Homo sapiens: one gene and its partners. The protein of the gene in region 1 interacts with the protein of each later gene in a pairwise test. Each region holds a gene or a part of one and is shown on either strand. Other genes may lie near its edges. The genes, in order: LUZP4, SRPK2 and SRRM4.

Region 1 (3,751 bases):
CTGTAATGATATTCTCCACTGAATCCACCTAGAGAACACTTAGCCAATCTCTCAAGGAGAGACATTTGATCCAGGCCTCACCAAAGAGCCTTAAATTTGAATTCTTGATATACTTACTCTCAGAAATAAACTGTCAGGACTGAAGAAAGACAGTATTCCTCACACAGTTTAAAACTGATCACACTGCTTGAGGTGCCATATGAATAATTACATTTTTATTTAAATTGCATAATTAATTTTCTTGTGAAAAGTATACTTATATTGCATTTTATTTTACAGTGGGTTGAAACCACTATTTTATATTTATAAACATGTAAAATACACCACAATTTTTGTTTTGCCATTTTTTAAATATTTAAAACACTGGAAACCTCAAAAAATGTAAGTGACTTAGGTTCCTCTCAACTTCTGAAAAATTCTGACTATACATACTTCCAGAATACTTAAAACAATGTATAATTGCACATATTTACTTAGCTGTCTCTCCAGCTAGATTAGGAGGTACTTGAGAAGAGACCACTGTTTATTTACTAGTGTACTAAGTGCCTAGCACAGAATACAGAGTGGATAATCCATATTTGTGGATTCGTGGTCCAACATATCTAGCAGGCAGAAAGAGTTCTTTTCTTTCTAACTACAACACTTTTGCATCAGTCTCTTTTAGGTAAAAGTAATTAACAGGGGAGTGGAGTTCCTATTAAGTTCTTGCTGTTACCAGTTCGAATTTTGGTCTTATTTTTGCCTTTTATTTGTTTTAAAAAAAAAAAGGACTCTAATACTTTTTGGGTATGTTTACTGAGGGCAAAAACAAAAATAAATCTGTAGAGCCTTTTCCTACTTTAGCGTGTATTACAATGGAAGTAATAACCTTGCATCCAACATACTACTGCTTTTCTAAAGCATGTGTTTAGTTATCTAAAAACAAAGATATGCATTGTTAAAAAGTATTATTTTCACTGAGAAAAACATGGGGAAATTTATCAGGAAAAAGTATGGCGTTCTCATTACATCATAGAAAGCAACATGTATTTGCTATTTATTGTGTATTTTTCTTGCCTTCAAACTGCAAGGGCCTCAGCCTGGCACGGTGGCTCACGGCTGTAATCCCAGCACTTTGGGAGGCCAAGGCGAGAAGATCGCTCGAGCCCACGAGTTCGAGACCAGCCTGGGCAACATGGCGAAACTCCGTCTCTACCAAAGAAAATACAAAAATGAGCCAGGTGTGGTGGTGCACACCTAGGGTCCCAGCTACTCTGGGGGCAAAGGTGGGAGGATCGCTTGAGCCTGGGAGGTCCAGGCTGCAGTGAGCTGTGATTGTGCCACTGCACTCCAGCCTCAGCGACAGAGACCCTGTCTCAAAAAATTAAATAAAAGTAAAAATAAAATAAACCGCAAGGGCCTGTGATAACTAGTCGAAAGTTTTGCTGTTCCTCCTGACATGATCAAAACTGGGATTCTCATCTGTCTAAAAAGGTATAAATATGGATATAGAGAACCAATGTTTAAAATATGGATATAGAGAACCAACGTTTAAAAGGATAAAACAGTGACCTCAAGATTTTTTACAACTCGGTGACTATGAGATCTTACAGTCATACTTAATCTCCAACTAACCTACCAAATTCAACTCAACATCTTTCCTCAGCCTTTCAAATAACTGAAGCAATCTTTCCCAAAGCAGACTCTCCAGTATCCTTCCAGCTGTAATCATCTACTAAAATATAAGTGCCTCCTAAGTCCGTTTACTTCACTATTATTCAAGTTACACGACACCACCATCTCTCTCAGTCTCCCAGAGACTGACGTGAGCTGTTTAAACCCCATCTTTCACCTAGATGGTTTTTAATCTCTTTCATGTCTACTGTATCTATGAAGTTTGATAACAAAATCCTAAGAGGAGAGGTAACTTCTCCAGCTTGCCAAATTGCTGGCTACCCAAACGTGAGCGTTTAGGCCCACTTTCCGGGGCACATATAGCAAATATTTACTCAGCTTTTTCCACGTCAGGCAGCATACTTTGTGAACATTACCTGTATTCTCTCATTTAATCTTCAACAACTCTATGATGTAGATTTTATTCAGATCAGGAAACTCAGGCCCCAAGAGATGGAGCAACTTGCACAAGGTCACACAACTACTACATTTTTGGGACCAAGCCACTCTGCAACTATGGCCCTTATTTCTCTGAATTTTGAGATAAACCCATTGCTTTAGCTATTTATCAGTTTTGTTTTGTCTTTTCTGTTAGCAGTTGCAAAAACATCAGTGAAATCAACACAAAGAAAAGTGCAGGAAGCATGAAGTTTTACCTCAGTGCTATAAATTCCCTTCAGTTCTAGGTTTTTCTCCCTTCAAGGTCCCAGTGACAAGGCAGGGCCTAGAGTGAGGTAAGTGAGGAATTCAGGCACAAAATTCAAGGAGGTCCCCCAAAACTCAGTAATCAAGATTAAAATATCTCAACACAATATTTTCTTTTTTTCAATCTTTTTTTATTTTTTTTTTTTGAGACGGAGTCTAGTTCCATCACCCAGGCTGGAGTGCAGTGGCACAATCTCGGCTCACTGCAACCTCGGCCTCCCGGGTTCAAGCAAATCTCCTGTCCCAGCCTCCCAAGTAGCTGGGACTACAGGCGCCTGCCTCCACGCCCGGCTAATTTTTGTATTTTTAGGAGAGACAGGATTTCACCATGTTGGCCAGGCTGGTCTCGAACTCCTGACCTCAGGTCATCTACCTGCCTCAGCCTCCCAAAGAGCTGGGATTATAGGTGTGAGCCACCACGCCCGCCTCACAGTATTTTCAAAAATAAAAATCAATGCAAAACCAATCCGTGATGAACAAAATATCAAGCTTTTTTTTTAAAAAAAGGATAGTATCAAAGGCCGGATGTGGTGGCTCACACCTGTAATCCTAGCACTTTGGGAGGTCAAGGTGGATGGATCGCTTGAGCCCAGAAGTCGAGACCAGTCTAGGCAATATAGTGAGAACCCGTCTCTACAAAAATACAAAAAAATTAGCTGGGCGTGGTGGCACACGCCTGTATCCCAGCTACTTGGGAGGCTGAGGTGGGAGGATTGCCTGAGCCCAGGAAGTCGAGGCTGCAGTGAGCTGTGATAATGCCACTGCACTCCAGCCTGGGTGACAGAGTGAGATCCCATTTCAAAAAAGAAAAAAAAAAATAGGATCAGATCAGACCCTGTACTTGCACAGCCCTCCTTCACTTGTTTCACTCTAGTTCTTAGGTCAAGAAAACTTTATTTACAAAAACAGGTGGCCAGACAGATGGCTGTAGTGTGTCCATTTGATTTTTTAAATATTTCATTAAAATATTAATTATCCCTATTAACAAATTTTTTTTTTGTGACTCCTTGAACTTTATACTGGAAGCAAGTGCCTCATTTACCTCACCCTAGTCCCAGCCCTGGCCAGTGACCAAATATTATTTTTAAAGTCATTTTAATGCCACAAAATATTTCAGAACTTGTGATGAAGTTGGGGTAGGGGGAAGTAGCAGTATGGGATCAACAGGGACCATGTCTTAGAAGAGGAAATTGATACCGATCTTAAAATAGATTGCTAAAAACATCTTAAAGACAACAACAACAAAAAATACTTAGTTACTTTTCAGGGCCATTCCCCCTCAGAAGTAAAGTGGGAGGCAGGTAAATTCCTCAACCTCATAAGGGCATCTACAAAAACCCAACCAAAGGTAAAATGATGATTAATGGTGAAAAACTGAAAGCTTTTCTCCCTA
Region 2 (3,751 bases), on another chromosome or scaffold:
TATTTATAAATCTCAAAGACAGCCGGGCACAGTGTCACATCCCTGTAATCCCAGCACTATGGGAGACCAGGGCGGGTGGATCACTTGAGCTCAGGAGATCAAGACCAGCCTAGACAACGTGACAAACTCCATCTCTACAAAAAATACAAAAATTAGCCAGGCGTGGTGGCATGTGCCTGTAGTCCCAGCTACACCAGAGGCTGAGGTGGGAGGATCACTTGAGCTTGGGAAGTGGAGTCTGCAGTGAACTATAGTCCTGCCACTGCACTTCAGCTTGGGGAACAGAGCAAGACCTTGTCTCCAAACAAACAAACAAAACCCTCAAAGACTATATATAGGCTTTACCACCAAGAACCATCTGTGGCCTTATGACAGCTTGGTATTATGAGGTCAAATTTAATATATTAAATGTCCTATTTTTACACTACAACAGAACGATGAGGTAAGAAAAACTGCCTCATTGCTCCTAGGTTCTCTAGGAGGAACAAAAGAAACCTCTAAAGCCATGACTTTTGGGGGGTGGGGCAAGCAGTGAATGAGGGCCTGCCCCTTTCCAAAAAAAAAAAAACCTCCCTTATGACAACCAACTGAAAAAGCAAACCTCATAAGCCGTCCTGACAGCACTGAGGGAGCTTATGCTTAATTCTTGGGAAGGGGGCAGGTGAGAAGACAGAAAGGCTTTTCCTTGGGAATCTGTTATTGATATTTATGCCACTGTTCACAGCAATAGCATTTCAAGAAGTAAGCAGGACAGGGAAATTGTATGGAGGGACAAACGTTCATCTAATGGAAGGCAGGTCAGATAACCTGGTATAAAATTGTGCTGAAAGCTCCATTAACCCACTACATCCGTGACTGCGTCCTATTTTTCTGGTTATATCACCAAACTTAATACCCCAAATTAGAAGCACAGCATTTCAGAGTTCAAAGAGTACTTAGCGCCTAATTCGGGGCAGCCCTGCTGCTAGTGGCCATTGTGGTCTAACCTCCCCACATCCTGAAATGGCCCCTGCTCCCCGACTCCCACTCAGTGTCTCCGCAGCTCCCGTTACACTAACTCCCACGTCTCAGTCTGCCTGCTGGGGTCACACAGAGAGGGTCAAATGCCTCTCCACACAGCACTCTCTAAATTCAAAGTGACCATCATTGGCCACCGGTTCTTTTAACCGTTCTTTTCTATACCTAGCTAAGGCAGGGACTTGGTTTTTGATATGGAAGAACTTTAATACCTTTAATAATTTAAACGTTATTGTCTGGTATTATCCTTAAGAGCAACGAGGGAATAGAAAGGCCTGGTGTTTCAGGACCTATCTGGCCATGTGCTGACTCAGATCATGCTGAGTCAAAGCTGAAAGACAGAAAGCACCCTCTTTTTCTCCTATCAGCTGGCACTATCTGCTCAACAATGCTTTTACTTGAGCATTAGAGGAGGTAAAACACAGTAAATTCAAGAAAATTGTTAAATTAACCTCTGAATAACAGAAAATTAATATATTTATTCTGCATTCCTTTTTTCAGTGAGAAGAAAAATGCTAAGCCTTGCACACAATCTTTTCTTTTAAATATTGGAAGAATATGGATAAAAAGCAGTATGGAATAGGAAAAGCATGAAACCCAACAGCAAGCAACCCACCTTTCCCAACACGGAACGCCTAAGTAAATACCACTGAGAAAAAGCTGCTGAATGGGCCAGGAAACAGGGCAGAGGAAGAGAACCAGGAACTGGCTCGCAAATGCAGGGCCCTTTGTGTTCACCAACTCACAGGTTCAGGGTCAATGACCAAACGATGCCAGGCAGGGCCAGGGGAGTTTACAGACAATGCAACTGTGCAGCACAAAACCAGCAGCAAAACAGGCCTGACAGATAGAAGAAGAGGCTTCTGCCGCCCTGTGGAAGCCGTCATCTCAACCACTCTGGGAACAGACTCTGTCAGAGGGAGTGGGCGTTGCTGCCACTGTTTCAGAAGAGGCTAGACATCCTAGAATAAGCCAGAATATCTGCTAGCTCTTGCTTTATAAGGGAAGAGAGATTATGCATTGGCATCTGGGGAAATCCCTTCCAGTCTGGAAAGGTGAGGAACCCTGCATGTCTGGTTGACCAGGCAGAGGCTTACCTGGAGGGGCTCCCACCTGCCCGCCTTAGGCAGTCTTCCCCTGGAGATGCTACCTCATCTTCCTCCACAGTGTGAGTGAAGGGAAAAGCTCCCTATACCCTGCACATTTTCAGGGACCACAAGTGAAGTCACTGTGTCACAACAACTGAGTCTGATTCATGGGGCTGTGGGCTGTGCAGGGCCTTAAGAAGAGACCATGTCTCTCTCACAAGCCCACAACCACACCAAACACCCAGGGCCCGCCTGAGGAGGATCCTTCCACTTCTTAAGATGCCTGCGGCAGCAACCTTCCCCTCACCCAGCCCACGGTGGATGACCCTTACAGTCAGAAAAACTGAGGTCGCATGCCTCAGAGAGACTCAGCCCCATCCAGAGTGTGAAAGGAACGAGCCAATTCCCATGGCAGCAAAGGGCACAGCCGTCCTTACCATACACGCCGTGCTCCAGATGTCCGCAGGGGTGCTGTACCCCGCTCCTATTAAAACCTCTATGGAGCGGTACTGACGCGTCTGGATGTCTTCCGTGAAGTGTTTATGCTGGAAGGGAACAGGCTGCATTACCACGGAGCAACACAGACATTCAAAAAGTGTCTTCGCACACAGAATCAAGACCAAAGGTTTTAGAAAGAAAACTCTACTTACCACCCAACAAGCATTTCCCAGGTCAGCAATTTTTACTCTAATTTTATCTGCATTCCGCGGATCCAGGGGATTCACCAACAAGTCAGCTGCCCGGGTTTTTGCTGGCATGAGCAAACAGCAGGACAGTTAGTGATCGGGATAGGTGGTTTGCATGTGTGAGCACAGTGTTTGCCAGGGTCAGTCTCCTTTCCTCAAGAGTAGTGGAATGATCACTTAGGCCTGGAATACTGTAAATTAAACTTGACAGAACTAAAATTGCTTGTTCTCCACCTCTGGAAAATACTCCAGAAAAGAGCAAACTGGGCTGCCCACAGGACGCCAAGGGCACTGCCTTGACCTTTCTCTTTTTATCCCCAGTTTCTTCGGGTCCAGGTCAGCCCTAGAACAAGCCAGCCTTGCTGTCCCCCTGTCTGCAGCTTTGTGGCGGCTCTTCATGGTGTCAATCCATCCCTTCACGGCCCAGATCGAGCTTGCTGATGCATTATTACAAGGAACATGAAGGTAGAAAGAACACTGCTGTGGGGGCCGATCACTCTCAGTGACACACAGTTCCTTGGACGCCACAAGACATCAGGGTCCCTGGCACCGACACCTCACACCCACATCATCCCCTACAGTTCCCACTGCTTGGGCTGAGCACACACAGATCTCAAGGGGTAGATGACTGTTGATTAACAAACACAGATTAAAGGCAGGGACTAAACTATTCTGGTTTTGTTTTAGACAAGGAAGGTCCCAGACAGAGGTCTCCTGAGATGGCCTGGGCCATAAAGGCAACCTCTGAGGTCAGTCATGAACTTGTCATGTACATGAGCAGTCATTCTAAATTCCAGGATGACTCCAGGGAATCTCAAAGGCAGGTATAGGGCCAGCTTCCCAGAGATTCTGGGGCCAGATCTTCTCAAACAAGTTCAGATCATGCCTGTATCAAGCAGAGTTAACCAAGGGGCAAGTGACAAACAAAAATAATCTGGTGAGGCCCAGAAAAATAGTCCT
Region 3 (3,751 bases), on another chromosome or scaffold:
CTCTTGACCTCGTGATCCACCTGCCTTGGCCTCCCAAAGTGCTGGGATTACAGGCATGAGCCACTGCGCCCAGCTGCCAATGCTATTATTACCCCCAGATTTACAGAGAAGTCTCAGAAGGGTTTGTTATTTCCTCAAAACCACCCAGAGCCCCAAACCTTGATCTGTGCAGCTCCAGAGTCCCCACCCCTCCCACCTCACCAGCTCCCTACCTTCAGTGTCTATGGTTCCTTTGATTTAGAGCTGATGTCTCTTCCACTCAGCCCATATTTATTGAGCCCTCTCTGCTCATAAGTGGCATGACATAAACAGTCATGGACTCAACCATCATTTATATTTCAAAGTGAAAGGCTGGGTCTAAATTACTTAATTTGGCTGTCCATGGAGATCAAATTAAACAGGTAACTGCTAGATGTCTCTCAGGCTTTAGTTCCTGTTTGGGGGACATATTTGTATTTGAATTCTGGTGCTGCCACTTATTAACTGAGTTTCTCAACCACTCTGAGCCTCAGTTTCCCCATCAGGTAAAAAAGGGTTACAAATAGTACTGTCCTATAAAGGTTTTGAGGAGCTCGGGAAGATTATTTCTGGAAAGCATTTGGCAGTGTACCTAGCATGTGATTTGGGCTCAACGAATATGAACTGCCGTTATTATTGTTGTTGTTATTGCTATTTCAATTTTTCCTGCATAATAGCACTGCTGTATATCAGTAAACATGTGTCCTCCTCCTCCCTTCTGGGAACTTCACTGCCTGTTCTTGGAGACACTGACATTGGCTCTGGCCCAGCTCAGGTTCTCAGTCAAGCTTGGGTGTGAGCTGAGGCCAGGGATGACCTGGGGCAGGCAAATGGGAAGGCAGTTCTGCATGTGGATGTCAAGCTGTTTGTCCAGGACTGAAATGGGGTATGTGTTAGGGACAAAGAGTGCTCTGTCTTTGAAGAAGCTGTTAGCTGCTTCAGTGCTAAGGCGTTAGTCATCTTTTGAAAATTTTGGCTATATGGAACAAAGGCAAACTCCCACCCTCAGAAGTAGAAAAACCTCACTGTTAGCATGACAGAGGGCACCAGCAAAGCTTTTCCACCCATCCCGCAACTGTGCATCTGCCTCATTAATTATAAGCTCCTGAGAAAAAGGACTGTTCCATTTTTAAATCCCCAGCACCAGGCTGAGTGTCTGGCAGAGAGGACTTGCCTGATAAACAAGTTGAGGAATAAACAACAGAATGAATGGTACAGACTAAGTGATCAGTAAATTTTAGTAGCTATTATGATGACAGTAACCTCAGTGATTAGCATTTTGTTGTGATTTCTTGAGTGAGAGAGTTAAGCGGATGACGAAGTAGAATTACAACTGGCTCATATGCATCTGTGTGGAAGAGTTTTCTGCAGGAAAACTGCATCTAGTGAGTGTGTTAAGATGGGTAAAAAAATGGAGAAATCTCAATGTTCTCTGATATGTTGATAAATTATACTATGGTATATCTGTATCTATAATTAATAAACTTTATTTTTTAGAGCAGTTTTAGTTTCATAGCATGATTGAATGGAAAGCACAGGGAGCTCCCATATACTTCTTGCTGCTACACACGCACAGCCTTATTCCCCACTATCAGCATCCTCCACCAACGTGGTCCATTTGCTACAATCGATGAACCTCCATTGACACATCATTATCACCCAGAGTCTATAGTTTACATCAGAGTACCCTCTTGGTGTTATACATTCTATGGATTTGGACAAATGTATAATGACAGTTATCCACCATTGTAGTGTCACACAGAGTAGTTCCATTGCCCTAAAAATCCTCTGTGCTCTGCCTATTCATCCCTCTGTCCCCTCACCCTCTGGCAACCACTTATCTTTGTACTTTCTCCATAGTTTTGCCTTTTCCAGAATGTCATACAGTTGGAGCCATGCAGTGTGTGACCTTTTCACATTGGCTTCTTTCACTTAGTAATATGCATTTACATTTCCTCCATGTCTTTTCATAGCGTGGTACCTCATACCTTCCGAGCACTGAATAGCATTCCATTGTCTGGACGTATCATAATTTATGTATTCATTCACGTACTGAAGGATATTCTGGTTGCTTCCAAGTTTTAGCAATTACAAATAAAGCTGTTGTAACATCCAAGTGCAGGTTTTTATGTAGAGATAAGTTTTCAATTCATTTGGGTAAATACTGTGATATGTTCTTTTTTTTTTTTGAGATGGAGTCTGGCTCTGTCACCCAGGCTGGAGTGCACTGGCGCAATCTCGGCTCACTGCAAGCTCCACCTCCCAGGTTTATGCCATTCTCCTGCCTCAGCCTCCCAAGTAGCTGGGACTACAGGCGCCCGCCACTATGCCTGGCTAAATTTTTGTATTTTTAGTAGAGACGGGGTTTCACTGTGTTAGCCAGGATGGTCTCGATCTCCTGACCTCGTGATCCACCCGCCTCGGCCTCCCAAAGTGCTGGGATTACAGGCGTGAGCCACCGCACCTGGCCTGTGATATGTTCTTAAATGACTTACAATTAATTTAATGTTAGACTTTCTTTCATTTTTTTTTTCTTTTGAGATGGAGTTTCACTCTTGTTGCCCAGGCTGGAGTGCAATGGTACAATCTCAGCTCACTGCCACCTCCGCCTCCAGGGTTCAAGCAATTTTCCTGCCTCAGCCTCCCGAGTAGCTGGGATTACAGGCATGTACCACCACACCCGGCTAATTTTGTATTTCTAGTAGAGACAGGGTTTCTCCATGTTGGTCACGCCGGTCTCGAACTCCTGACCTCAGGTGATCCACCCGCCTCGGCCTCCCAAAGTGCTGGGATTACAGGTGTGAGCCACCACGCCTGGTCAATGTTCGACTTCCTTCTAAGATTACTGGTAAAATTGTCATCTGTTTTTTTGCCTGCCTAGCCTCCATCTCTCCTGATACCAATAACCTGGCTTTTCCTGTAGAGGAGTGTGGGAAGGTTCGACTCATTAGCCCTAGTGATGGCATCTGACACATTCTGGCCAACAGCATAGCATCCCCTGGGACAGTGATGGGCAGATGACCTAAGCTGGGCCAAACAGAACCAATAAGCACCTGCCTTGGTGTTTGGCTGAAATCTTTGAGAAAGAAGCATTGTTTTCCTGTTGGCTGGCTAAACCAATAGAATGTTAGCTGCTTGGCATATTTGACAATGCTTTGGGAGGATCTGCTTGAGAATAAGGCCAGTAGGATGAGGAAGCAGAATAAGAGATGTAATGAGAAAGACGGATTTCCAGCAACATATTTTTGAACCCCTGAATCCAGCTGTACCTGAAGCTAGTGCCACTAGTGTTTTAAAACAAGCCAGTCTGAGTTGAGTTTCATCTCTCTTACAAATAAAATAATCTTGGGGGTGGAGTGGGGGAGGCTGGGATGAGAGCATGAGAAGGTGGAGCTAAGGTGGGAGACCGTCTACCCCCGACCCTGTGTGGTGCACTGACCTTGACTCTCTGCCCCTGCTGGTGGGGGAGAGATTCTCCAACATGGCCCCCTTGTTCTGGGGTGAGGAGGTGGTGAAGGAGTTCCCTGAATCAGAGGTGTTGCCACTGTTGAGCTCCCGGCTCTTGCTCAAGCCCCCACTGGGGCTCCCCTTCTCCTGGCCCCGAGACCTGGCTGAGCTGGTTTGCGTGGAGGGTGGCGAGGACGTGTCATTTCCTGAGTCGTACTCCTGGGAACGTCCTCGCGAGGTGGTGAGCGGGCTGGCTGTTTTGGTAAAGAGGTCAGCAGCAGACCCC

What was found.
Region 2: the proteins of LUZP4 (region 1) and SRPK2 interact in binary tests that used the Homo sapiens proteins (3 or more experiments, as listed by UniProt).
Region 3: the proteins of LUZP4 (region 1) and SRRM4 interact in binary tests that used the Homo sapiens proteins (3 or more experiments, as listed by UniProt).

Annotation. Positions count from the first base shown.
Region 1 is NC_000023.11:115,292,704-115,296,454, reverse strand, and holds part of LUZP4 (leucine zipper protein 4), read right to left. Parts: intron 1-3,751. UniProt on the Homo sapiens protein: Export adapter involved in mRNA nuclear export in cancer cells. Binds and enhances the RNA-binding activity of the nuclear RNA export factor NXF1. Can restore mRNA export function in cells compromised by loss of mRNA export adapters.
Region 2 is NC_000007.14:105,130,249-105,133,999, forward strand, and holds part of SRPK2 (SRSF protein kinase 2), read right to left. Parts: exon of another isoform or gene 2,857-3,751; coding exon 2,756-2,856; exon of another isoform or gene 2,651-2,755; coding exon 2,543-2,650; exon of another isoform or gene 1,519-2,542; intron 1-1,518. UniProt on the Homo sapiens protein: Serine/arginine-rich protein-specific kinase which specifically phosphorylates its substrates at serine residues located in regions rich in arginine/serine dipeptides, known as RS domains and is involved in the phosphorylation of SR splicing factors and the regulation of splicing.
Region 3 is NC_000012.12:119,145,392-119,149,142, reverse strand, and holds part of SRRM4 (serine/arginine repetitive matrix protein 4), read right to left. Parts: coding exon 3,458-3,751; intron 1-3,457. UniProt on the Homo sapiens protein: Splicing factor specifically required for neural cell differentiation.